4 linked regions of the Homo sapiens genome follow. The protein of the gene in region 1 purifies or fractionates together with the protein of each later gene. This does not show direct contact. Each region holds a gene or a part of one and is shown on either strand. Other genes may lie near its edges.

Evidence for each region.
Region 2: the proteins of PPP2CB (region 1) and PPFIA1 purify together in Homo sapiens (affinity purification with mass spectrometry; 6 studies listed by BioGRID and IntAct, with this or other methods). This does not show direct contact.
Region 3: the proteins of PPP2CB (region 1) and PPME1 purify together in Homo sapiens (affinity purification with mass spectrometry; 8 studies listed by BioGRID and IntAct, with this or other methods). This does not show direct contact.
Region 4: the proteins of PPP2CB (region 1) and STRN3 purify together in Homo sapiens (affinity purification with mass spectrometry; 7 studies listed by BioGRID and IntAct, with this or other methods). This does not show direct contact.

Annotation. Positions count from the first base shown.
Region 1 is NC_000008.11:30,802,812-30,809,838, forward strand, and holds part of PPP2CB (serine/threonine-protein phosphatase 2A catalytic subunit beta isoform), read right to left. Parts: intron 1-7,027.
Region 2 is NC_000011.10:70,322,663-70,329,689, reverse strand, and holds part of PPFIA1 (liprin-alpha-1), read right to left. Parts: intron 5,289-7,027; coding exon 5,187-5,288; intron 4,883-5,186; exon of another isoform or gene 4,844-4,882; coding exon 4,679-4,843; exon of another isoform or gene 4,563-4,678; intron 4,191-4,562; coding exon 4,116-4,190; intron 3,429-4,115; coding exon 3,327-3,428; intron 3,094-3,326; coding exon 2,872-3,093; intron 2,591-2,871; exon of another isoform or gene 2,436-2,590; intron 1-2,435. UniProt on the Homo sapiens protein: May regulate the disassembly of focal adhesions. May localize receptor-like tyrosine phosphatases type 2A at specific sites on the plasma membrane, possibly regulating their interaction with the extracellular environment and their association with substrates.
Region 3 is NC_000011.10:74,244,267-74,251,293, reverse strand, and holds part of PPME1 (protein phosphatase methylesterase 1), read right to left. Parts: exon of another isoform or gene 5,799-7,027; intron 5,261-5,798; coding exon of another isoform or gene 5,219-5,260; coding exon 5,089-5,218; intron 4,216-5,088; coding exon 4,171-4,215; intron 1,149-4,170; exon of another isoform or gene 972-1,148; intron 341-971; coding exon 276-340; coding exon of another isoform or gene 36-275; exon of another isoform or gene 1-35. UniProt on the Homo sapiens protein: Demethylates proteins that have been reversibly carboxymethylated. Demethylates PPP2CB (in vitro) and PPP2CA. Binding to PPP2CA displaces the manganese ion and inactivates the enzyme.
Region 4 is NC_000014.9:30,904,362-30,911,388, forward strand, and holds part of STRN3 (striatin-3), read right to left. Parts: intron 6,802-7,027; coding exon 6,680-6,801; intron 2,684-6,679; coding exon 2,516-2,683; intron 1,198-2,515; coding exon 1,057-1,197; intron 1-1,056. UniProt on the Homo sapiens protein: Calmodulin-binding scaffolding protein which is the center of the striatin-interacting phosphatase and kinase (STRIPAK) complexes.

The sequences.
Region 1 (7,027 bases):
ATGGAGGAATCTTGGATATATTATGCTAAAAGAGAGAAGCCAAACACACAAGACATAACCCTGGAAATGAAATTCAAATCAAAAGTACACGGAAGAACCGACTGTGGGAATGCTGACAATGCTGCTGTTGGAGAGACTCCAAATATGCAGCCAGGAACTTAGCAACACGCAGAAACTTAGTGACATAAAGAAGTGAAAATCCAAACTTATTGCATAAATGAGGAAAATTGTTTTGGAAGAAGTGATGCTAGCAAAAATCTCTTTCTGTATTTGTCAGGAAAGATCACTTTTACTTCGGCTCCTAAATAAATCAGACGAACAGTTCCTAGGACTTTATAGGTATATTTAAGATTATCTCTTGTATCTCACTAGCTTTTGTTTTTTTTTAAGACATGGTCTTAATCTTCTTGACAAATACAGGTATTTCATGACACTGAAAGCACAAAGGAGGCCGGGGGCAGTGGCTCACACCTGTAATCCCAGCACTTTTGGAGGCCGAGGCAGAAGGATCACTTGAGTCCAGGAGTTCAAGATCACCTTGGACAACATGAGGAGACCCTGTCTCTACAAAAAAATGAGTAAAAAAAGCCAGGTGTGGTTGTGTATTCCTGTAGTCTCAGCTACTCAGGAGACTGAGGCGTGAAGATGGCTTGAGTCCAGGAGTACAAGGCTGCAGTGAACTATGATCATGTTACTGTACTCCAGCCTAGGCGACAGTAAGATCCTGCCTTTAAAAAAAAAAAAAGCAGCTTCCTGGACCTGCCCAAGACATGTCAATCAGTCTCTGGAATGGAGTCAAGGAACATGAATTTCCTATTTCTTTCCCAAGTGATTCTCATGTGCGCTTAAAGTTTATGGAAAAGATGGACAATCAGACTATACAAAAATGCTAAAACTTGCACAGTAAAAATTATACACACATATCACAAAGTAGAAAATAAGACCTTAAACATTTTTAAATGGCTAACTTTTGGAGAATTTATACAACCAAGAAAAGACAAAATACAATTTTTTTTTTTTTTTGAGACGGAGTCCTGCTCTGTCGTCCAGGCTGGAGTGCAGTGGCGCGATCTCCATCTCAGCTCACTGCAACCTCCGCCTCCTGGATTCAAGTGATTCTCCTGCCTTAGCCTCCCAAGTAGCTGGGATTACAGGCGCGTGCCACCACACCCAGCTAATTTCTGTATTTTTAGTAGAGATGGGGTTTCACCACGTTGGCCAGACTGGTCTCAAACCCCTGACCTCGTGATCCGCCCGCCTCGGCCTCCTAAAGTGCTGAGATTACAGGCATAAGCCACTGTGCCCAGTTGACAAAATACAAACTTAAAACAAAAAAAGAATATGCCAACTCAACTGGAAAAATCCCTCACATTGCACACACTCCACAATTCTGATAAATCTAGCCTTGTTTTCTTCATGTATTTTGGTATTGCCATTTATTATTATTAAGGTTCTCGTCCCTCAGAATTTGCTATGGAATAAAAATCTGTATAGTGAAGAATTAACCTCACCCGAGGAGAGGTCTGGCCTTTGCCCCTGGAATTTCCTGCTTGGTAAAGAGATCTCTGCCTGGGGGCTCTGACCTGCGGACCATTAACAATGTGACTCACGATGCGGACTTTGGATGATCCCACTATCAGTTTGGTCTCTGGAGGACTGGACACTACAGATGTCAGCCCCTCTTGTACTCTGCCCTTATGAGTCTTTTCCCTTGGCTTACTTTAAATTGTATTCATTCCCTGTAATAAACCATAATCATCAGTGTAACAGCTTAAAGTGAGTTCTGTGAGTCATTCCTGTGAATCACTGAACCTAAGAGTGGTTTTCGGAACCCACTGAACTAGTATATTGGTGCCAAAACTGAGGCAGTCCTGGGCAGTGTTCCCTGTAATTTATAGTTCACTGAACTTTATTTTTTGTCTGCTGTTCTGAAGGTACATCATGACTAAACTTTTGAAGATGGTGTCAGAGGTGAGAACAGTGTTAGGGACTGTGCCTTCTAACTCTCGCAAAATCCTTTTTAATTACAAAAGTAAACCACATTATAAAGAATTTGGAAGGTTTTCTATGACCACCCTATTAAAAAAAAAAGAGTCTCTTGAATTCAAGCCCATCACTGTCCCCATCTTCTGCTTTTTCTTGCCAGCAAGAATCAATGCCTGGTGTTCATTAATCGTGTCCCCTCTTCACAGCTGAATCTCTAGCACTTTGAACAGTCTGGTACATAGTGGTTCAACTAAAATCTGTTGAATGTACGGGATAACTACACAGTGGCAGCATTCTGTCAACCAATCCTCTCCTTTCTTCTTCACTGCCCACAGGAACAAGCGCCTCTTTTGCTACTCAAGCCAAGTCGAGAATACACTGAACCAATTCTGAGCTCTCATCATCCAGGACATAAATATCATGCGGAACTCTTTTAAACGAAGATGAAAATTATTTCCCTCTCTATAAGATGGGATTTTGAGCTGGGCGCAGTGGCTCACGCCTGCAATCCCAGCACTTTGGGAGGCTGAGGCAGGCAGGTCACAAGGTCAGGAGATCCGAGACCATCCTGGCTCACATGGTGAAACTCCATCTCTATTAAAAACACAAAAAATTAGCCGGGAGTGGTGGCAGGCACCTGTAGTCCCAGCTACTCGGGAGGCTGGGGCAGGTGAATGGCATGAACCCGGTAGGCGGAGCTTGCAGTGAACCGAGATGGCACCACTGCACTCCAGCCTGGATGACAGAGAGAGAGACTCCATCACAAAAAAACAAAAAAAAAGAGATTTTGAGCAAAATTAAACTACAGCCTACACACCGTATCCTGCATATTAAAAAAAATCCAACTATGCTAAAAAGTTAATTCAAATAAGCTTTTTTCTAAGATTGAATAGGTGAGAACACTTAAATTCACCACTGTATCCCAGTCTCAACATAAAAACGATTGTCTTTGTATAAAATATTCACTTAATAGATCTCCAATGGAGTCTTCCACATTTTTGGTGTAACATGATGCTATTATAACGCAAGTCAGGAATCTCAGGTTGCACCTCAGGATTGTCTTTTAATTCATTTGATCACAAAAGTATCTCAGTCAAAAAACAGTTTACAAGGAATGATGATAAATATTTCTAAATTACAAAGGACACAACAGCAAACCAGTTCTAAGCTTGAGTGCTTGAGCTCTCCCATTCTCTGGAAAGGAAACGGAATCTGTAATACACAGAACTCCTTCCCAGGGTTAATATGATTTTTTTTTTTTTTTTTTTGAGATGGAGTCTCCCTCTGTCACCCAGGCTGGAATGCAGTGGCGCGATCTCGGCTCACTGCAAGCTCTGCCTCCTGGGTTCACGCCATCCTCTTGCCTCAGCCTCCCGAGTAGCTGGGCCTACAGGCGCCTGCCACCACGCCTGGCTGATTTTTTTTTTTTTGTATTTTTAGTGGAGACGGGGTTTCACCATGTTAGCCAGGATGGTCTGGATCTCCTGACCTCATGATCCGCCTGCCTTGGCCTCCCAAAGTGCTGGGATTACAGGCGCGAACCACCATGCCCGGCCGTTAATATGATTATTAATGAAATTTAGAGTTGAAAAGTAACGTACAGGAACTATTAGATCACATTTGGTCATTAAGGAAGAAAAGATGTCTTCATACAAGTTTCTTTAAACAATCTGGATTAGGTTTACATTTCATTACATTTACTTGAAGGAAATCAGTTCAAAACAATAAAAAATTTCTATTTAACACAGACTCAGATTTCTTATACAGATTACTTCTGTAACTTTAATATCATTCTTCTTAGAAAAAACTACATTCAGAAAACAATCTAGGAAAATTAATTAAGCATTAATTCCATCTTCAATTTCTGGCATTTTCATTTCCTTTTACCAAGGAAGGGCTTCATTCACCAAGTCTTTTATAACATTCGTACTGAAGAGAAAAGACTGTGAAGAAAAAATTTCTGCAAGATCTTCAAATAAGAATAAAAGGCACACACGGCAATAAAAGCAGGCAATGAAAAGAAATTTTACATTGCAAATATCTTCACTTTATCTACTTAGGTAAATATCTTATGGCAAGGGTATATTATTGTTAAAGGGCAGTATTAAGTATTAAATATATTTACCTAGTCATATATATTTGACACGTCATATATAAAGTAGAGAAATGTAACAAAGTCCACTTTCCCGCCATTAGCAATAGTTCATGCTAGTCTAGTTTGGTTTAATTTCTTTACCTGTCCACTAAGAGGCTGGCTTAGCAAGGAAAACAATGATTTGTTCAGTCACTAGAATTGGGTCTTGACCCTCTATTTCACTGTAATCATGCCATTCTTCATTATACTAAGAAAGGAGCTATTTTATCACTGCATTTTAGATTTTATCAATGGACCACCAAAGCTGGCACTAATTTTTGTTCGAGGGAAATTAAAAATGGAAGTACCAGTTAGGCATTTTGCCTGTCAAGACCACTATTTTTATTTTTTAAGCTGTAATCAATCACAGAAAGTAATCTAAAAAAATTTTCTCAATTCACAAAAATCACTCATTTTTACCAGAATCTAATCTTCATTAAGATGGTTTTGGGTATTCAGGAACAAGCATACTATTTCACATTAGGAATGAAGTCATATCCTAAAGTTATTTCTGCTTATTTCAAGGCTAACGCCAGGACTTAGAAACATTTCCATCAGTTCAATATAAAATTTACATATTTATACTTCTACACAAGCCTCGACATTTTTCTCAATACGTACTTTATAATCATCAGAATAAAGATCTGCCAGCACACACATTGGCTGAATTTCCCTCCCCACCTAAAGAATCATCACCAAGGTTCTTCAGTTATAAAATTTAACAGGTCAAAGAGCTTAAAATTTTTACTCTTTCTGAGACAACAGTTAAATATAGTTCTAGTCACAGAGTGTCCTGAGCAGTGCCAGCCTGGCTCTCTTGGCACACAATCTTCTAAAATAACTGCATACTGCTGATGCAGGAATGAATCACAGAAGCAATTTCTCTGCACACACAAGAGGAGTCAAATTCACAATTAGCTTCAAAAGCTGGATTGCTAATTTAAGCTAGTGTTAAGAGCTAGTCTTCTCAGAAGACATGCCTTGCTATTTTATGCAAACAATTTTTCACTAGGCAGAAATTAACCTTGGAAGCCAGACACACCATACCATTCATACTCTTTATTTTTTGTAGTCATTCACCCACTGGCACTAGGATAGATTTTATTTTTGCAACTACCTCAAAATAGGCCTTTACTAGTACTACTCTGGTCTTGATTTCAGTGGACTCCTTCAGCTTTCTTTTTTTGGAGACAGAGTCTCACTCTGTCGCCCAGGCTGGAATGCAGTGGCGATCTCGGCTCACTGCAACTTCTGCCTCCTGGGTTCAAGCAATTCTCCTGCCTCAGCCTCCCGAGTAGCTGGGACTACAGGCACACACCGCCATGCCCGGCTAATTTTTTGTATTTTAGTAGAGATAGGGTTTTACCATGTTGCCCGTGCTGGTCTCGAACTCCTGAGCTCAGACAATCCGCCCACCTCGACCTCCCAAAGTGCTAGGATTACAGGGGTGAGCCACCATGACCAGCCGACTCCTTCAGTTTTTAGGCAATCTGAATTAGAATAGAAATTTAAGGAAAAACCACCATCATACGATGTAACTTCCTATAGAATAGTATTTCCAATAGAATAAAAAAAGGTATTTTTAAAAAACCCAAAAATTGAATCACAAGGATTAAAGATAGTTTATATAATTAGGTTTGACTCTTTATTTTTCTCATATTTTCTTTCTACATGCCTGCTACTCTTGCCCTAGAAAGGTAGGGCAAGTATTAAGTAGACCAAGTCAGGAGTAAAGATACTTCACACAACTGCTATTAATTCCAGTACTGTGTGGTTCACATAACAGGCACCACTACTTTTCAGGGTTCTATAGCCACTATATAAAAAAAACTCCTTTGAAGTATATTTACCAAAGAAAAGGCATATTGGCACATCTATTCATTTTGCATTTCTTACAAAAGAAAATGGGTGACACTTATGATTAAAACTTTCAGCCTTCCTTTAGTTAACATTCACTGCGTGCTTACTTCTCATTAGGACTTTACATGGCCTTTTTTTTTTTTTTTTTTTTTTGAGAAAACTGCATTCTGTCACCCAGGCTGGAGTGCAGCGGTATGATCACTGCTCACTGTAACCTCTGCCTCCTAGGGATTCTTGTGTCTCAGCCTCCCAAGTAGCTGGGAGTGCAACACTACGCCCAGCTAATTTTTTTTTTTTTTTTTAGTAGAGGCAGAGTTTTGCCATGTTGGCCAGGCTGGTCTTGAACTCCTGGCCTCAAGTGATCTACCTGCATCGGCCTCCCAAAATGCTGGGATTACAGGCGTGAGCCACTGTGCCCGGCCAATGAATATATATCTTAGCACTCACAACCAACCCGGGAGGATTGGTACATATTATCTCTGTCATAAGGAATCAGAGGTGCAGAAAGACTGACAGCTAGCAAGCTGTGAAGCAGGACTGGAACTCAGACAGGATGAATGCTACACTTGTTATGTATCAACAAGGAGGATGGGGTAGGGATATAAAACGGAACTAGAAACTAAGGTCAGAAAACATATATATGTATATATACTCATACATACACAAACCACAAAGCTAGGTCATAGCTGCCAGAAGAGGGCTGCAAAACTAAGCACGGCTCAAAAAGAGTAGAGAGAAATGAGTATTATCACACTTTTCCAACCCATTGGCAACTCCATCAATGGGGGTAGAGAACAAAGATGAATGAATTTCACTAACAAATTCATGCTTTGTGGGTAAGGACAAATATTCAAAGAAAAAAAAATGGGCTAGGAGTGGTGGCTCACTCCCGCAATCCCTGCACTTTGGGAGGCCAAGGCGGGAGGATCACTTGAGCCCGAGAGTTCGAGACCAGCCTGGGCAACACGGTGAGACCCCATAAAAAAAATAAAAAAATTATCCCGGTGTGGTGACACATGCCTGTGGTCCCAGCTACTTGAGAGGCTG
Region 2 (7,027 bases), on another chromosome or scaffold:
CTTTGGCCTCCCAAAGTGTTAGGATTACAGGCGTGAGCCAGTGTCCCTGGCCAAAAACATTTTAAAGAAACAAAAATTAGCCACGCATGGTGGCACGCCCCTGTAGTCCCAGGTACTTGGGAGTCTGAGACAGGAGGATTGCTCGAGTCCAGCAGTTCAAGGCTGCAGTGAGCTATGATGGCGCCACTGCACTCCAGCCTGGGTAACAGAGAGAGATCCTGTCTCAAAAATAAATAAATAAATAATAATGTCCTCAAAATTAAATTGATGAAGATGTCAATTTTCTCAAATGTGAATGAAAATGTAACTACCTCAAATACCATAAATATTCACCTATACGATTAACAAAGACTTGTCTCTCTTAATACTATGTCTGGCCACTCAGTTGACCAAGCTTTCCTGTTTCTACATAATATTATAAAAATATATACACTCAAATATCTAAATATTTTTCAAGGAGGTGAAAGTGTCCTCAAAGAAGACGCAGTCTACGTCTGCCTCACGCTACAAATGGTCTCACACAGGACAGGGTGCGGCCTCTCTCAGTGGACACAGTAGTGAGATACAAGTCTCACTTTCTAGGATAAGGGTTGGATGAACTCTCATACAATTACAAGACTCAAGCATATTGACAAATGGAAACAGAAGTACCAGTTTAATTTAATTGGATGCAACTACCTGAAGTCTACAAGATGATTACTATACAGTTTCAAACACTTAAGGCTAGGACCAGAACTTTTTGCTTGAGAAATACCTGTCCTCCACCCCCAGAATTCACTATTTTCAAGTTGTTCCCTATTTATAAAATGACTAAAGTTAGCAAAGTCTAAATATTACAAGTGATAGGGGAAAAAAGCTCAACATCACCGATTAGACAAATGCCAATCAAAACCACAATGAGACAGCATCTCACACCAGTCAGAATGGCTATTGTGGAAAAGTCAATCAGTAACAGATGCTGGTGAGGTTGTGGAGAAAAAGGAATGTTTTCCTGCTCTTGGTGGGAGGGTAAATTAGTTCAACCATCGTGGAAGACAGTGTGGAGATTCCTCAAAGACCTAAAGATGGAAATACCAACCCAGAAATCCCATTACGGGGTATATACCCAAAGGAATATAAATCGTTGTATTATAAAGACACACGCACACGTATGTTCACTGCAGCACTATTCACAACAGCAAAGACAAGGAATCAACCTAAATGCCCATCAATGATAGACTCCATAAAGAAAATGTGGTACGTATACACCATGGAATACTATGCAGCCATAAAACAGAATGAGATCATGTCCTTTGCAGAGACATGGATGGAGCTGGCGGCCATTATCTTTAGCAAACACAGAAACAGAAAAACAAAATACCTCATGTTCTCACTTATAAGTGGGAGCTAACTGATGAGAACACAGGGACAGACAGAGGGGAACAACACACACTGGGGCCTATCAAAGGGTGGAGGGTGGAGGATAGGAGGAAGAAGAGGATCAGGAAAAATAACTAGGCTTGGTACCTGGGTGATGAAATAATTTGTAAAACAAACCGCCAGGACACAAGTTTACTTATGTAACAGACCTACACGTGTACCCCAAACTTAAAAGTTAAAATAAAAAATTAAAAAATAAAAGTGATAGGTCTTAAAAGAATTTCAAAATTCTCTGCATATTAATCTCTGCCACATAATCTCCTGCTGTAGCCAAAGAATAGAACCTTAGGTGACATACTACATGCAAATGTTCTTCCTGTGGTGAATTCCTACATGAAATTACTCAACGTCAAACTACCAAACTGAAAAGCAGACATTCAACGGTTGAGGCGCCTGACAAGGGACAAAGCGCAGGTTAGAAAGTGACAGGAAGGGCACCTGAGAAAGCACTCAGCCTCACTGTTTCATGATCAAATAGTTTCTCTCTTTTTTTTTTTTGAGACGGAGTCTCGCTCTGCCGCCCAGGCTGGAGTGCAGTGTCCCGATCTCGGCTTACTGAAAGCTCTGCCTCCTGGGCTCACGCCATTCTCCTGCCTCAGCCTCCCGAGTAGCTGGGACTACAGGCGCCCGCCACCACGCCTGGCTAATTTTTTTGTATTTTTTAGTAGAGACGGGGTTTCACCGTGTTAGCCAGGATGGTCTCGATCTCCTGACCTCGTGATCCGCCCGCCTAAGCCTCCCAAAGTGCTGGGATTACAGGCGTGAGCCACCACGCCCGGCATTCATGATCAAATAGTTTCTCACAGTTATAATGGCAGAAATATTTGTCAGCAATGAGTATATTGTGACATATTTTTGCTATACGATCCTGATGACCCATGTAGAAGCAAATTCCACTCTTGATTGTTTGACCATTAATATTCAACGCCACAAATTCCTTGAAGGAGCAGGTCAGAAAATGAGAAGACCGCCAGCAACGCCCCCTCCCACAGTTAAGAGACTATACTCACATTGCCCTACGTGAGCTAGCACAGCCAGTATCAATATCTGCTTGCTAAGTATGTGTGCAACAGAAGGCAATCTGAACATAAGAACAAATTAAGACAGCCTAGAAATTGCACAGATGAAGAATCTACAAACAAGGACATTAAAGAATATTAAAGCAGCACAGGTAGGAGAGGCCAGTGTGGCGTCCACTTCATGGCCATGTCAGTCAGTGGGACTAGTTCTCTACTTTGAAGAGCTCAGGGACAGGAGATTTCACAACAAAAATGGGGAGGTAGCTTATGGCAGTTTCACAGCACTCTCTCTTTTTCAATATAACTTATACAATAATCCAAAGGTTGAAAGTAATTGGGAGAGTAAGAGACAAACAGAGAAAAAAAATCATTTAACTAAAACGTCCCAAACATACAACTTCATGACAAGACTGTAGTTTTTGTTATTGCTCACTTCACGGACATCTCGTTGCAATTTTGTGTTCATTTCTTCAGATTTGATGAGATCTTTTCTAGCCGTGTCCAGATCCTCTTCCAGTTCTGTCACATGACTGGAAAGGGAAGCCAGGCGTTCTTTCATTTGGCTCTGTTCCCTTGACTGCTTACTTATGATTTCTTGGAGCTCAATTACTTTAGCAAGGTCTTCCTCGTGGCTTAAAGAACCATCAGAAGATCTCTGATAGGGGGAAAAAAAAATCCTTAAATACCCTTGTTTGGTGAGCTATAAAATAAAAATACTTCCAGGAAATAGCTAAAATCAAAACTGACTTATGCAATCTGTTGGATTACACAACTTTCATGACCACTTCAGCTCTAAGCCGGTACTTTAGCAACTGTTTTCCACATAACCCGACACATACTGTGAACAAATGAAATCAAACAGAATAAAGACAAAGCCTACAGACTTGCCTTTCCACTCGTGCTTGGTGTATTTTCTTGTTCATGGTTTATGTCCAGCACTCCATCTGTTAGAGTTTTTTTCTGATTATTCTGTTCTTTAAGAATCATTAGCTGAAAGCAAAAAATTGAATATGAGTGTAAAATACCTTACATAAGAGAAATAAGTAAAGATAGCAAAACTCCTTTTGGAAAAACACAACTAAAAACTGCTTAACATAGTATAAAAGAGAAAGCATATGGCAATGCTACCCAATCCGAAAATAACCAGATCATTGAAGATGGAATTTATTATCCACTGGCCAGACGAGTCCTTAGGTAACCATCATTTTGTAGTCCTTAAAATGACTCAGATAGGCTGGTCCTCAATTGGGAAGATAAGTAACATGTGATATGTACAACTACAGTCCTTATACTTCTTTTACTTTTTTTTTTTTTTTTTGGAGACAGAGTCTTGCTCTGTCACCCAGGCTGGAGTGCAATGGTGCAATCTCAGCTCATTGCAACCTCCACCTCCTGGGCTCAAGCAATTCTCATGTCTCAGCCTCCCGAGCAGCTGGGACTAAAGGAACATGCCACAACTCCTGGCTAATTTTTGTATTTTTAGTAGAAATGGGGTTTCACCATGTTGGTCAGGCTGGTCTTGGAACTCCTGACCTCAGGTGATCCGCCCGCCTCGGTCTCCCAAAGTGCTGGGATGACAGGTGTGAGCCACCACGTCTGGCCTTATGCTGCTTTTAATAATTAAAGGATAAAAATAACCCCCCCCCAATTCAACTCATGATGAAGTCTCAAGCTTACCTCTTTGTGTGTGGCACCTAATTCCTCTTCTAACAAACTACATCTTTCAAGTGCTACTCGTAATCGCTCTCTCACCTGAAAATAAAAGGGGTTGAGTTTGTGTGTGTGTGTGTATACTGTTTATTTTATTCTTAATATATAGTTAAGTGTAATATATACACTTAATGTATATATTAGTGTAATATAACATAATAAAATACCATTAATGTCTGTCATTGATCTTACTGTCAAGAAAACTTGTTAATGGCTCTAAATTAAGTTTCAGAAAAATAAATCTTCCCCCGAAATATCAGGTTGTTGCAAAAGTAATTGCAGGTTTTGCCCACAATTACTTTTGCAACAACCTAATACTACCCAATTTGTAACAGCAAATCAATATACATTAGTAATTTTAAGACATTTAAGCCAATTAGTACTTTTTAAACCTACAAAACCCTGTCTTCTTAGAGAAGTTATTTCCAAGAATTCAAGAAGCTTCAAAAAACAAAAGTTACACCAACACTTGTGAAGCTGGCCTAATACACAGCATGTGCACAAACCAAGACTTATGTGGCTGATGGCACCTTTTCATCCAGAGCTTTGTGGTGTTCAAATAAGGACTTCAGTGCTTTCAGCACTTCCACTTCGCTGGACACGCCTGCTGGAGACTGCGCTTGTCTCTTCACCACGGTCATCCTAAGAGACCGCTCATGCCTGGAGACAAGGCATTCCAAATGCTCTAACAGCAGCTGAAATAAAAGGCCAAAATAAAGACTTGTTAAACAGCATTTTTAATTTCATGATTGAATCTGGGGCAAATAACTCCTTTACAGTCTCATACTAAAATGAAGTCCCTTCAATTCCGCAGAAAAACAAATTCCTCTCAATTGTATTAAAATATCATAAATTCTCATCACAAATTTCAAGCCATTAATGTGTGATCATGCTGACTAATCACAGTCTGCTCAGTGGGAAAAGGTATGAAAAGTATTTCAGGCCAGACAGAGTGGGTCGTCCTTTCGTTTTGACACACCGCCCCTCCTCCTGACAGTGGCTCCAGGGGCAGGCAGTGAACAGAAAGGTCACACTCACCCTGGTGTTATTCCTTTCTGCTTTCAGTTCAGCAATTTCTTCTTCCCTTTCAAGGAGCTGTTCCCTGCATACATTGAGTTCTTTAGTAAGTGCTGCGAACTCCTAGAAAATCACAAAACAAAATTAAATAAATAAGAAAGACCCCCTAAAGAAAGCCTTTCATCAAGGCTCCACAGTCTTCACACAAAGGCAACCTCATTACAAGTTATGGGGAAGGGATCTCAGTGATCCTCCAGAGAAAGAGGGCATCAATGGACCACACAGATTCCCTAACAAATCACAACACTGACAGACCATCTGACTTCCCTCTATCCCTGCACCCTGGGACAAGGACAGCAGGGAAAGAAGGGGAATCCAAGTCCACCTTCTCAGCAGCCAGAGAAGTCCAAAACATTTTCCTGAACAGGATCCTGACATGAACTGAATGAAGACATTTTAAATGACTCACAGACATGTGATCTAGAGTTGCTGGAGAGAGAGGAAAGATGGCCTAGAAGGCCACCACCCCTGTCCTAGCCTCCTTTTCTTCCTTTTTCTTTCTGAGACAGGGTCTCATTGTGTCACCCAGGCTAGAGTGCAATGGTGTGACCATGGCTCACTGCAGTTTTGACCTCCAGAGCTCAAGTGACCCTCCCAAGTAGCTGAGACCACAGGCTTGAGCCACCGTGCCCAGCCTCTCTTCTAAAGTAATATTTCTTCTGCAAGAATCCCTACTGTGGGTAATCAACTTCTAGCATGACAGCACAAGAAGCTCCACTGACCTGCTTGCTCCCAAGGAAAACAGGTGAACATTGTAAGAAAACAACTGTTCTGAGACTCTGGAGATCGTTCTAAGGGTTCACAGCAAACAACTGAAAATTCAGTAAGAAAGGCCAGAGTCTGTTGTATTTGAACCAAGACTGCTCCCTGCCTCCCCTTTCCAGGTCAGTGAGGCAGCGACTCTGTTCCAGACTGCTGCAGCTGATAATGTAGTGCCCTCTCCCCCAGTTCCACCCCACCCCAGCTACGTGGTGCTGATGCTGCATCCTGGCTAGTGGAGTCATGGGCAAAGTGGGCCTTCCTACCTCTGTCCAGCCTCCATTCTGGAATGGAGGCTCAACTTTGAGTGTGGCAGGCTGAGAATACTGGGGGTCCTGATCAGCTGTGCCCTGGCTCTGTAAGACGGTAGCTGCAGGGCTGGAGTGACAAGCTGAGAGGGCCCTGGCTGCCGCCATAAGACCAGGGGCGTCATTCAGGGAGAAACGAGTTTGGTGACATTTAAACCTCTTTAAATGTTAGGGCACTAACATTTAAACCCTGGGCACTCTCTTTAAACCTAGGAGCAGTGGAGGTCCTAGTGAAGGCAACTGGAGGTGTGGGTTTAATGGAGGCACAGCCTGGACTGCGGCTGGCTAGTCAGCAGGGAGAGCTGGAGAATTCTTGCTGCAGGAGCCCTCCAGAGTAGGAACAAATCTCCTAAAATGACTTCAGAAACTGTTTCTTAGAATTAGCCACAATTTCACTGAATTGGTTTCTAATTATCCCAGGGCACTGCTGAAGACAACAGAAACATATGTGGGGCTCAGAACTGAGTGTGGTCAGAGAGAGTGGAAGACAGCAGCAGGGTGACTGTGGACACATCCAAAGCTGCGCCTGGCTGGGGAGTAACAGCAGAGGCTGAACACAGCGGGGGTGGGGAGGGGACACAAGCACATTCCACTACATGAATCTAGCATTCACTGAACTGCTTAAGCTGGCAAGTTTTATCTTAGTATATTTTATTGCAATTAAATATATATAGACATTATAAACATATTATACAGTGAGTTTTGGAGACAAGGCTGCTCCTGAGACCATAAAAT
Region 3 (7,027 bases), on another chromosome or scaffold:
CTTTTGGGGGTATTGGAGAAGTAGAGCTTAAGATCTTAACCACAGGGCCCTGGGATGAAATAGCAGAGTGTCAGTAGCTCCTCAGCACATATACACAAAACCAATACCATAAGCAGCTGCCAGGGAGAAGTTGGAGAGCTGGTGGAACTGCATCTGCATAGGCTCCACAGCAGCTGCTGCAGGCAATGCAGGCTGAGACTCAGAGACTTGTCTTCTGTGACATCCAGGGTTATTCTCACAGTTGTCCTTTTACAGTCACTGAGCACCAGACTCACCTTGTCAGGGGCATCCTCATGGACTGCATGGCCACACTGGGGTAGGACCTGCATCTGGAACTTCCCTGGAGAGGAATCAAAGCAAGGCAACTTCAGCGACTAAAAGAGCCCTCTCTTATGCAGCCTCATAGGTCATTCCAGGAGCCCAGGACCTACCTCCCCATTTCCAACCTCACCTCAATACTCTGGACCCAATTATCAAGTCTTGCTGAGGATGGTAATACAAGTAATTGTAACCTTGCGCCAATCATTTCCCTTCACTTTTTCCTTCTGTCCTATTTAGTGTACATTTACTGTGGGCCAGAGACACATAGAAGAAACAGTTCTTGTCCTCAGGGGATTTACAGTCCAGTAGGGGAGTAAAACACAAAAACCAACATTTTAATGCAGCATGTCATTCCTATGATAAAACTGGCTACATGGGGCTGTAAGAGCATAAGAAAGGGAACTTCACAATCCAAGAGGGAACCAGGAAGGAAGGAAGGCTTGAAATGGCTTGGAATACAAGAAGCTTGGCATGGTGCTTATGAGAGTGGTTAACAATAAGGCTGGAGAGGTAAGCAGGGGCCAAACCATTAAGGATTTTGTAAGCTATGTTAAGGATTCAAAATGTATTATTACAATAATAAGTTACCATCTGAGCACTTAAGCATGTGCCAGGCATTGTACTAAGCACTTTCTCATACTGTCTTACAGAACACTGTAAGCTCGTAACTAATGCGACAATGATTGAGAATGAACAGCGATGACTGATAAAGAAGATCCCTAAGGAGACTAAAGGATATGAGACCCAGAGCCCCCATAAGTAGAGACAGCAGATTTTCTCAGCCTCAGATTCTCTATTTATAAAATAAAGGAATGGGCTTGAAAGTTCTTCTGGTCATTACATCCTGTGGTTCTTACCCCAGTTACGCAGGATTCAAAAGTTTTCAGTGTATTCTTCTATCCATTTTTAAAGTTGATTCTCAAAATCTACCCTATACAATTAAGCACAAAAATACTGAAATTCTTTTCTGAGATGATGAAACTGAGGCCATGATTAGTGAAGTAACCTGCCCAAGGCCACTTCATTAATTAGTGGAGGAATAAGATGATCCCATTTAGTAAAGTCCATCCTGTGCCCCTCCTCCTGCAGTAAGCTGCCTCTCTCTGGGTGCTCAAGCCTAGTCACCTCTCCCTTCTAGCTCCTAAAGTTGTTAATGCACTTGGATCCAAACACAGAGCAGCACATGGCCCTCTTGTAAGTTTCAAGTAAGTTTACATTTTACATGCCACTGGTGCTTGCCTCCCCAGGAGTGTGTCATTTCCATAAGAACAGGGGACAATGGTGTTATTACTTGCTCTATATCCCTAATAAGACCTAACACAGGGTAGGGCACTGAGTAGATGCTTAAGTCTTTAGCGAATGAATGATGAACAAATGACTAGATCCAAAACTTACAACTCCAATCTCCCTGTTCTTTCTGTTAGATCAGCTCTGATGACTAGGGACGCATTTGTCCTTCCTCTTTGGAAGAGTAGGTATAATCAGAGAGAACTCACATACACCAACAACACTGTGCCAGGTACACATAAAATAACATGTTCATGGGTAATCCTCATGATTATTCTATGAGGTGGGAATATTTCCAAACTCTTCTCTCCCATTGCACAGATTAGGAGCCTTAGGTTCAGAGAGCCTAAATTATTTACCCAAGGGGTACTATGAATAGGTGGTAGTTTTCCAGGATTTCATAACTAAGTCAGTTGGTTTGAACACAGTGCTGGCAAAGCTGTGGTTTGGAATCTATGCAGCCTTAGCCATTTCCCTTTGTTCTGTGGAATGTTCCTTATCCTCGCCATTTACTCTCTATACTCATAGGAGGCTTTCTTTAAACCAGAAGGTGGTCTTGATATAATCCATATTGAGGAAACAGGAGGACATCTCATAAGGAATCGTGATTACTTCCTGAATATAATGAAAGGCATCATTTGTTAGACTACCCGCATTTTTTTCATTTAAACTTCATGTAACTGTACTGAGATATATCATTATCTCCATTTCACAGATGAAGAAACTCAAAATTAAATAAGTTAGGAATTCACTCATACCGCAAAACTATTAACAGTGATTCAAACCCAGGATTGTCTGATTCCAAGGCTGGTGATCAACAATGATTTCAAATGCTATCCCAGTCCATGTCAACTGCCTTCAGGCAGTCTCAGGGGCCATATCTGATTCTTCTGTCTGCCCAGCATCATGCATAGGTCTTGCACAGAAAGGGTGCCTAGGAAAGGTTTCTTGAATTGAACTTAAGTGTCTTAGATTCAATTTCATGGCACTCATGTTGGTAATTACGGGCTTAGACATTTATAAGCATCTACTTAAATAAGTGTCTAAGCCCATAATTACCAACATCAGTGCCATGGAAAAAAAATCACACAGTCCCAGCTCATAGTCCTATTCTAGGCCTCAGGATACAATGTAGTTAAAGGAAGGCAAAGCCATGAAGGTCTGGGACCAGAGTTTTATATGTGAGAGCCTTTGAACAACTATTATGAGAGAATATAGCTCCTTTTGCTGTGGAAAGCTTGAGGATAGCTAAAAGAACAGTTTGAGAGGCCCATGAGATATCCAGCAGGTTTGCTACATAGGCTAGGACTGGATCTCAGGAGAGAGGGGTGAGGTGGATGTTTAGCTTTGGGAGTCATCAATATATAAATGGAAGCCATGAAATTGTCCAGGGAGAGTAAGTAGGGAAGAAAGGTCTAGAACAGATTCTGCCTGAGCCTGAAACTTTGGTCTTGGAGTTGGCACCTCTTCTTCCCATAACCCAAAAGTTGTATGCCTACTGGCTTCACCTTCACTGAGTCTTTTACCCGTACTAAAGCAAGAGCCCCCACAAAATTGGACCCGCTGCCTCCACTGTTATCTAGCTAACATACATGCATCTGTATACAGTGCTCAGCATGTCACTTTCCTACTCATTATACCCCACGATCTGTTTGAGGCTGCCATCAGTTTTTTCATTTTCCAGATTAAGAAGACTAAAGCTGAGGCAAGTCAGATAACTTGCCCAGAGTCAAAAAATTACTGGAAAAGCAGTATTCAAAACTCAGTTTTCCGAACTTCAGAGACCTTACTTTTACCATCTTACCATGCTGTCTTCTAAACAGGTATTTATACCTTTTTATATCTGGATTATCTTGAGCCTTTCCCTTTCCTAAAACTTCTAACAATAAGAAAAATACTGGCCAGCTGCAGTGGCTCACACCTATAATCTTCGCACTCTGGGAGGCCAAGGCAGGTGGATCACTTGAGGTCAGGAGCTTGAGACCAGCCTGGCCAAAATGGTGAAACTCCATCTCTACTAAAAATACAAAAATTAGCTGGGCGTGGTGGTGCATGCCTGTAATCCCACTACTGGGGTGGGTGAGGCCCGGAACTGCTTCAACCTGGGAGGTAGAGGTTGCAGTGAGCCGAGATTGGTCCCACCGCACTCCAGCCTGGGCAACAGAGTGAGACTCCAATTCAAAAAAAAAAAAAAAAAAAAAACCCACAAACAAAAAACTGATCAGTAGTCAGAATATCTCTTTTCACAGTATCATACACCTATACAGTACTTTATAATTTTTAAACACATTGCCTCATTTTAACTCTTATAACTGAGACATAGGTAGTAGTATTATAATCTTCATTTTTGGATGGATTTTTTTTTAAACAAATTAAAGCTCAGGAAAGGGAAATACTTGCCCATAATCATATAGTGTGTTAGGAGTAGAGGCGGATGTCCAACTTGGGTCGGACTCTAAAGCTCATGCTTTCTCCGTTATACCTCACTATCTCAGGATGTTAACTGCCCTATCACCCTTTCTTCAGAAAAGGGTCCAGGGGTATAATTTCTTGATAACTTACCTTGCATCTGGCCAATGGTCAGATCTTTATCCAATCTATCAACACCTAGAAAACAAGAGAATTCATTGTGAAACAGATTTTGCTGTTCACGTATTAAGTAAAAAGTGTTACAAAGTTTTAAATATGATGACATTCTCCATTCATGTTTATACCAATCCTAACTCCCAGAGCATACTCTCACCACCAGATAAAACTTTTCAGGTTGAGATTCCCCTATAATTACTATGTTAAACTGGTTCTGAAAACAAGGTTTTACTATTTTAATTCTCATAATAATCAGAATATCCTTATACCACTGCATCTAGCTCTAGACTAAGAAGGACTTGAGCTTGACCAAGTAGACAGGCCAGGCCAGAATTAGGTCATCCTTTATGCTTAGATGAATGCTTATGCTTAGTTAGGTTTAGAGACTGGGTGTGGGGAGGAGAAAAGGCATAGATGAATGAGGAAGGTACTCTACTTTGGATGTCACTACTCATTTGGTGAGAAGTTTTAATGAGGTCATATTGAGATGACAATATACCAACACTGCTATGGACTGAGTTGTGTCCCCCTAAAACTCATGTTGAAGCCCCAATTCCCAATGTGACTGTATTTGGAACTAGGGCCTATAAGGACGTAACCTCAGGTCATGAGGGCAGAGCTCTGACATGATAGGATGAACGTCCCTAATTAATATCCTTAAGAGAAGAGACACCAGAGAGCTCACATTCACTCTTTCTCGGCCATGTGAGGGCACAGAGAGAAGGCAAGCCAGGAAGACAGCCCTCACCACAACCTGACCATGCTGGCACCCTGATCTCAGACTTCCAGCCTCCAGAACTGTGAGAAAATAAATTTCTGTTGTTTAAGCCACTCAGTCTATGATATTTGGTTATGGCAGCCTGAGCTGACTAATATATGCACATATACACTTACCAGCCAAGAGCAGCAATTTAGGAATGGGACAACTAAGAAAGAGATTGGATAAGCCTCGGAACCAGCCGTCCCAGTATTTTTCTGTTTTTGCCAGTTCAATTCTCCAGGTGTATGGATGGTCTTTCTTGGTCTGGAGGAATAAGAGCAAGTTCTGAGTCTCCGAGGGCAACCCCTGGAGGAACAGGATTAAAAACTAGATCCCTGGGAAAAGGAAAGGGAAGGAAACTAGCACTTATTAAGGACCTACTAAGTCCTAGACATTTTAATATACATTCAATCCTTCCAACAGTCTTGTTGTATGGGTCACTGTTAATATTCATTTTAAGATAATTACAAGTTTACTTTTTATTGCTATTAGTTTCTGTGAATTTAGGAAACTTTCTTAAGATCACAAAGCTAGTAAGTGGTAGTGCCAAGATTAAGCCTTTCTTATACTTGGTTGGCAAAAGGATGTTTCATCAAAAGAATAACTACAAAGAACATACTGCAGTATGAAAAAATGCTTATAATATAAGCAAGAAACAGATTACAACATGTCATCTAAGTTAGGATTACTACTGGAAAAATGTGGTATAGTAAAGTACTAAAAAGGAAAACTGAAAATAGGTTGATTTGTCAGTAGAGCATTTTTTCTTATATTTTATGATAATGATATAATGTTCCTGCAATAGTAATTTTGAAAGGAAATATGAGACAAATATGACAAAATGTCAACATTTATTAAATCTTTATTGTAGATAAGCACAGAGTATGCAATCAAATATTGGCTGAAAAAATAAATAATTCTCTATATTTTTCTGTACCATTGAAATATTTGAAACATTATAATTGAAATAAATATACTGAATCAACCACAATATGAAAATCTAAAAGTGAACATGAGATAGTAACATATTATCTTAAAGATCACTGGATGCTTAAGATGTCCATACTACCCAAAGTAATCCACAGATTCAATATAATCTCTATCAAAATTCCCATGGCTTTTTTTTTTAGGAAATAAAAAAAATCACCTTAAAATTCATATGGAATCTCATAGACACTGACTAGCCAAAACAATTTTGAAGAAGAACAAAATTGGAGAACTCACACTCCCCAATTACAAAGCTGCAGTAATTGAAACAGCTTAGTACTGCCGTAAAGACAAATAGACCAGTGGAATAGAATAGAGAGCCCAAAAATAAACCTTCACATAAATAGTCAAATGATTTTTGACAAGACTGCCAAGACCACTCAATGGGGAAAGAACAGTCTCTTCAACAAACAGTACTGGGATAACCAAACAGATATGCATATTCCAAAGTGAAGCTGGGGCCTTATCCCATATCCAAAAATTAACTCAAATGGATTAAAGACCTAGTAAGACTAAGACTATAAAACTCCTAGAAGAAAACATGGAGGAAAAGCTGGACAGTAGACTTGGTAATGATTTCTTGGATATGACACCAAAAAGCAGTGAACAAAAGCAAAAATAGACAAATGGTACTATGTGTATGGAATGGGAGAAAATCTTTGCAAATCATATATCTTATAATGGATTAATATTCAGAATATATAAAGGACTCCTACAATTCAGCAACTAAAAACATCGAGTAACCTGATTAAAAAATGGTCAAAGGGCTTGAATAGACATTTCTCTAGAGGTGATACAGAAGTGGCCAATAAGCATATGAAACGATGCTTAACATCACTAATCAATAAATAAATGCACAGCAACACCACAATGAGATACCACCTCACCCCCATTAGGATGACTACTATCAAAAAAGAGAAAAATAAGTGTTGGTGAGGATGTGGAGAATTCGGAAGGAACCCTTGTGTACTGAGTTGTAAAATAGTTCAACCAATAAGAAAAACATCAAGGCAGTTCCTCAAAATATTAAAAACAGAACTACTGTATGATCCAGGAATCCCACTTCTGGGTACATATCCAAAGAAT
Region 4 (7,027 bases), on another chromosome or scaffold:
TGCAATGGATCAAAACACATCAAATACATTTATATCCATGAGAGAGTATGATGATACCAAAAACACCACCCAAGACAAACTGGTCACCTTTAGAGGGTGCTAGCAAACCAACTCATTATTTTAAAAACTGGTAAATAAAGGGGAAAACCAAAACCCAATCATTTATCTTGCCTTTTTCCTTAATACACACTAACTCCAAGGTAACCAAATTGTTGATAAAGAGATGTTCTTTTTTATAGGAATAATCTAGCTAATAAATGGAGAGGGAATGATAAAATTAGAAAATCTTTCAATAGAAAATGAATGAACCCAGGAAATAATCCAGACTGAAAACATCACAAAAACATGAACAACCAGAAAATACTCACCTCTGATAAAAGCTTACAAATTACTTATGAAGTAAAGTTGCCAAGAACATTTAAAAATTTTTAAAAGAAAAAAACAGTGAACCTGAATTTGAATAAGTCTTTAGATCTATAATCAATTCACAGGAGAACTGTGAATAGAAATAGAGAAGCACATTAAATAACACAGGAATGCAACTAGCAAAATCCAGACTGTCGGAAACTTGACAAGACAAAGTAGCCAATTTCGTCAATTAAAAAAAAAAAAAAAAGAACATAAAAGAGATGAAGGGGAATCTATGGATGAAGAGAGACCTGAGAGACCTATCAAACAACTGCAATACATAAATCTTATGTGATCCCTATCTAAATAAACTGTAAAACACCACATAATGCATGTGTAATACTGGGCATTTATAGATAGGTATTAAAACTGAATGCTGAGTACATTAAGTTCATTATGTTATTTTCTCTACTTTCACCTTCATATTGCTCTAGACATTCCTCTTTTCCCATATGTCCACCCAAGCTTTTAAGCAAAATTTGAAGAAAAAGCAGACATAATATAAATAAGTATAACTGTAACATTATGAAACTAATTATTTTGCCATCCTAAATTCAAATAGTGAAAATATGAAAATTAGCTAAAAGATCACCCTCTATTGTGTAATAACCCTTTTTAAGGTTTCAAAGAAACTCCATGAAAACTTACCAGAATCTACCTGTGATGAAAGTATCACCAATGACTGTGATGTTTCTAAATCATAAATTACTGCACTACCAGTGTTGAAAGAGGTTACCATATGAGCTGGATCACAGCCTATAAAGTCAACTGATGTAGGTATTCCATGCTCTGAAATGAGCCCAAAGACAGACAATGTAAACAAAGTAAAATTACTATGAAATCTCTACTTTTTGAAATCTCTGTTTTTCTAATCAGAAAAAGGAATTCAAATAGTCTTGAAATACTGTTAATAATGAAAAGGAACACAACTGTGTCAGGATGGTGAGATAAGAAATATCTTTTCCTCAATTATTTAAAAACTTTATAGCATTCTATTTAATATTGTAAGAAAAATATAACTACAGAGCTCATAAAGAGTAAATACATGCAAAAGTTATTTGTTCTATTACACGTTTTCTTCTAAGGGATTAAATAAAATCCTAGTCTTTTGGCCAATTTGCCAATTATACTTCTTACTGTAAAATGATAAATTAGCATTCTCACATAACTTTGGGAGACTGGTTCACCTATCAGAGATCTGTAGGCCTTATCAAGCAGCTAATACAAGTCAGATTTTTGGACTCATGAAAATGGCTTGGACTCTGGAATCAGCTGATGCAGTACTTTACCCTAAAATGGCCTGAGCAGCAATTTCTCTCTTTAACATACTAAATTAAACTAGCCAGATCAATGCACAATTAGATGGAATATGGAGCCAAGCTATTAACTATCTAGATGAAGCCAGAAACAAATACCTAAATGAATTCTTACCTCTAAAGCTTGGATAACTGAAAATTAGTACAATCACTACGGTGTCTAAGAGACACAAAATTATATATTTACTATTCACCTAAAATGTTTTAAAACAATATGTATTTTTATGTACAAATAAAAGGTCTAATTAAAAAAATTTAAAATGACTTGGAAAATAAGACCAGTAAATGTCTTCAAAAGGTAAACTGGTTAAAGCCTTTTTAAATAGGAAAATATTTAAAATCATGAAAATAACCCAATTTGTACTGTTCCAGTTAGGGGTTCAGTGACTATGGCTGGACTACTCAACTAGTGTGCTCGAGGTAATGGAACACAGGGTTTATAGGTATGCTTGAGACTGTGATCCCTTCGGTCTTTGTGGGGTAGTCGTCTGGAACAGGTGGTGTGCCTCCTGTTGTCCCTATGAGTATCCTCATTTGTCTATTCCACTGTTATATACAATAGTTTTACATTTTTAAAAAATGGAATACAAAAAAGGTAAAAAAGCATTGCACTACAGGACATAGTTGCAAAGCACTTCAAAAAAATGAGTAAAAAGTTTATCCTAACTTTTACAAAATTCATTCAATATATCTCTTTGGAACAGTAAAGAAATACATCAATTACTTTGTCCTTTATATATTCCAATTTTTTAAAAAAACTAACTTTTCTCACAGATGCAAAATTTACTTACTTTTATCTCCATTGTAAGTGCAAATACATGGCAATTTTTCTTGTGGATTCCATAACCTAACAGTGCCATCTGCTGAACAAGACAGTAATTGATTTTTTATGCCACTATAAGCAAGACCCCAAACTGCATCTGTATGACCAACTAAAGTGCCAGCTAGAACATTTGGCTCTGGGGAAAAAACAAACAAACAAAAAATTAGGTAAAAGAAGTTTAAAAGAAACTTTGATACATAAAGAAAACTTACCATATAACTGAGCATAAAGAACACACATAAAGGCCACAAGAAGATAAACTAAAGTGTACATAGTGGCTATATCTAAGAGTAGAGTTATGGCCTACTTTTATACCCTCCTCCCATCAACATTTTTCTGTATTTTCACAATTTTCTATAAAGAAACATATGCTTTTTTTTTTTTTTAAAACAGCTTTCTTGAGATACAGATATAATTTACATACCATACAACTCTCTCATTTAAAGTGTATACTTCAATGATTTTTGGTATGTTGTTCACAGAGTTATACAACCATCATGACAATCAATTTTAGGGTACTTTCATCACTCATTAGTCACTTCCCCCAATTCCTCCTCCCCACCTTTCCACAAGTCTAGGCAACAACTAATGCTCTGTCTCTATAGATGTGTCTTTCTGAACATTTTCTATAAATGGAATCATACAATATGTGGTCTTTTGTGACTGGGTTCTTTCACTGAGTATGTTTTCTTTTTTTCTTTTTGAAATAGGGTCTTGCTCTATCACCCAGGCTGGAGTACAGTGGCATGGTCACAGTCCACTGCAGCCTTGAACTCCTGGTCACTGAACATGTTTTCAAGGTTTATCCATGTTGGAGCATGTATCAGTACTCCATTTATTTTTAGTGCCAAATAATATTCTGCTGTATGGATATACCATATTTTATTTATCTGTTCCTTAACTGACAGACATTTGACAGCTGATAACATTGAGCATAATTTGTCTGACAATCCTGTTTTTCTAGTAAACTCCTCCCACTTTCCATGAATGGTTCTTATCATCTCCACAATTCTCACAGCTCCCAACCTCTCTTCCTCATGAATGACTATGCCTCATATTTCACTGAGAAAATATAGCATTCAAATAATGCTGCATGTTTCTTATCCCCCATCTTCTTGCTGCGTAATATATAAATGATTAGTGTCTAAAGGTATCTTCTCCTAGCTTCCAGATACAAGCAAGGAATCTGTCCTCCATCCTATCAAAGGCTAATACCAGATGTCACTAACTTGCTGTAATGTTTACTGCTTCTCTACTACACAAATTCTCCTCCTTGGAATCATTACCATAGTGAAAAAAAACTTGTTCCAGAATCTCTTCAACAAAAAATCTTCATTAATCCTATCCTACCACCCCTTCCACCCAGCAATAGAAATATGCTTTTCACTTCCTGTTTACTCTTCAAATCACTCCAATTTGGTTTCTGATACCACTACCACACCAAAACAATCCTTGCTAATGATGATCCCTACACTATCAAATTTAATACTTTTCTTTGATGATACAAAACATTTTGTTGTTGTTCCCATTATATTGCTTTTCATCCATATAGTCTGACATGAAAGATTATCCAGAGGTCCCTTCATTCTTCAGTCTTAGCTGCAGCGTCCAAACTCTGTCTGGCCAAGACCTGGGTGACCTGCTAGTCACTTATAAAAAGGAAACTTTATATCATATTATTGGACCTCTCAGCAACATTCGAAAGTGCAGACTGCTTCTTTCTTCTCAAAATTGTTTCTTCTTTAGTGTGCGCTTCCATGATTTCGCACCCTCTCCTGCACTTCCTTCTGTCTCTTGGGTCACACCTCCTCAGTTTCCTTTCTTGGCTCTCTTGCTCTAGCCACTCTTCCAGTGTCAGAGTTACTGAGGACTTTAGTCCCAGGTTGTCTTCTCTTCTTACACCAAACAATACACTCCCCCAGTATTGCCCATTCTTATAGTTTAATGTATTATTTGTATAGAGAAGACTGTCCATGTTTTTAACTTCAATCGAGATCTCTTTGGGCTCCTTATTTGTATATTACCTACTTGATATTTGTCATCCTTTAACATGCCTAAAATCTGAACTCACCATCTTAAATCTCCTCACACCTGTTCTGTCCTCGTTTCAATAAATGCTCCCATCACATGCTCAGTTACTCACATCAAACAGGACTGAATGTTCTGAATGTTTGAAATGTTCTGAAATTAGTGATGATGGCTGTAAAACTTTGTGAATGTTCTGAAATTAGTGATGATGGCTGTACAACTTTGTGAACATAGTAAAAACTACTGAACTGTAGACTTTAATTTTTTTTTAGAGATGGGGTCTTGTGGCTGCACATAGTGGCTCATGCCTGTGATCCCAATACTTTGGGAGGCTGAGGCAGGCAGATCACTTGAGCCCAGGAGTTTAAGACCACCCCGGGCAACATGGCCACCATTTCTACAAAAAATACAAAAATTAGTGCGGTGTGGTGGCTCACACCTGTGGTCCCAGCTCCTCAGCCTGGGAGGCGGAGGTTGCAGTAAGCCAAGATCACGCCACTGCCCTCCAGCCTAGGAGACAGAGCAAGACTGTTTCCAAAAAAGAAAGAGAGAGAGAGAGAGAGATTGGGTCTCACTCTCTTCCCAGGCTGGAGTACACTGGCACCATCATAGCTCACTACAGCCTTTACTTCTCACACTCAAGTGATCCTCCCAGCTCAGCCTCCCGAGTGTCTGGGACTATAGGCATGTGACACCCCATCTGGCAAATCTTTAAATTTTTGGCAGACATGAGGTCTCACTGTGTTGCCCAGGCTGGTCTTGAACTCCTGGCCTCAAGTGATCCACCCACTTCGGCCTCCCAAAGTGGTGGGATTACAGGCATGGACCATTGTGTCCAGCCTGAACTGTATACTTTAAAAGGGTGAATTTTGTGATATGTAAATTATCTCAGTAAAGCAGTTAAACACATACAAATTAAGAGTCACTCACCCATCACTTTATCTACTCAACATAATTTATCAATAAATCCTGTCTATTCTACCACACTCCCTCAGCGTATCTTAAAACCACTTCTAAATGCTGTGCTACCACCACTCTAATCTTGGCAATGTCGTTTGTCACCTAGTTTACTGGACTACTTTATGACAGCAGCCTCCTAACTGGTATTTCTCTTTCCACTCTTCTCGCCCCCAATTTATTCTTCTCACAACAGACACAGTCACCTTTTTAAAACCTTACATTTATCAGATAACTTTCTGGCTTAAAACTCTTTACTGAAAGTTTCCTCTTATCCTTCAGATTTTGGCTTGAATGTCACTATTTTAGAAAGACCTTTCTTGACTAACTCTTCTAGAGAAGGTTCTGCCTGTTACGCCCTCTCAACAGTACTCTATCTTCTTATCATTTATCACAATTTGTAACCATAGATCCCATCCCTTCGCTTATCTGTTTTATGTCTCTACTTTCCATTAGTCTAAATCTTATTTCTTGACATAGTGCTTACCACAATGCCTAGCTAATGTAGGCACAATGTGTGTGTTAAATAAAAAGAACAAAGAGTTCATAAACATTTTGTTTTAACGTTTTATAATTATTAACAGTGCCCTTACAAATATATTTGAACACAGGTACAGGTAGGTGTTTCTGTAGAACAGATTTCTAAAAGCTACATTTGCAAGTCAAAGGAGGTTTCCTTTCTTTTTTTTTTTCTTCCATTTTGAAATTAAGAATGTTTTTGTAGATATGAGCTAAGAATAACAAAAAAAATTTTTGGCTCCAAAAAGTTTTAATGATTTATACCCCTGATGTTGGTTCCATTGTCTTTTGCTTAATATTTTTAAAATATATAAACTATTTCTTAAGTTCAAAATTTTGTTACTTAGATTACATTTTGTTTCCTCCTTCTTTTTGTAACTACTACCTAAATTAACATTTTAATTAATATAGTTTTTTAAACAACAGAGAAAGTATCAATTCATAGGCTTAAATACCCATGGCATGACATTTCCTAATTTTTCTCTTTAATAAAGCAATTTATTAGCAAATGGAAGAACTAAATGAGGTGACTAATATAGGTTTAAATAACCTTGTAATCATATTTGAGGTATTTACTTTTGTCAGCTCCATTCACTTAAAAAAAATACATTTTGATCATTTTACTTACCATATGTATCATATGGATCTACACTGGGACTCGGCATATTCCACCACTGGATGGTTGCATCAATACCACCACTAAAACACTGTTCTCCATTAGAACTAATAGCTAATGACAGAACAGGGCCGCTATTGTAGGAAGAGAGGAAAAACAAATTACTGATAAATTCTAAGAAGAAACTCAAATCTCCATTCCCCCAACCTCTGAATTTATGTAATATCTAAAAACTGTTTTAAGAGAACATGTACACCTGACTGGTACTTTTTTTTTTTTTTTTTTTTTGGAGACAGGGTCTCACTCTGTCACCAGCCCAGACTGGAATGCAGTGGTGATCTCTGCTCAGTAAAACCTCCA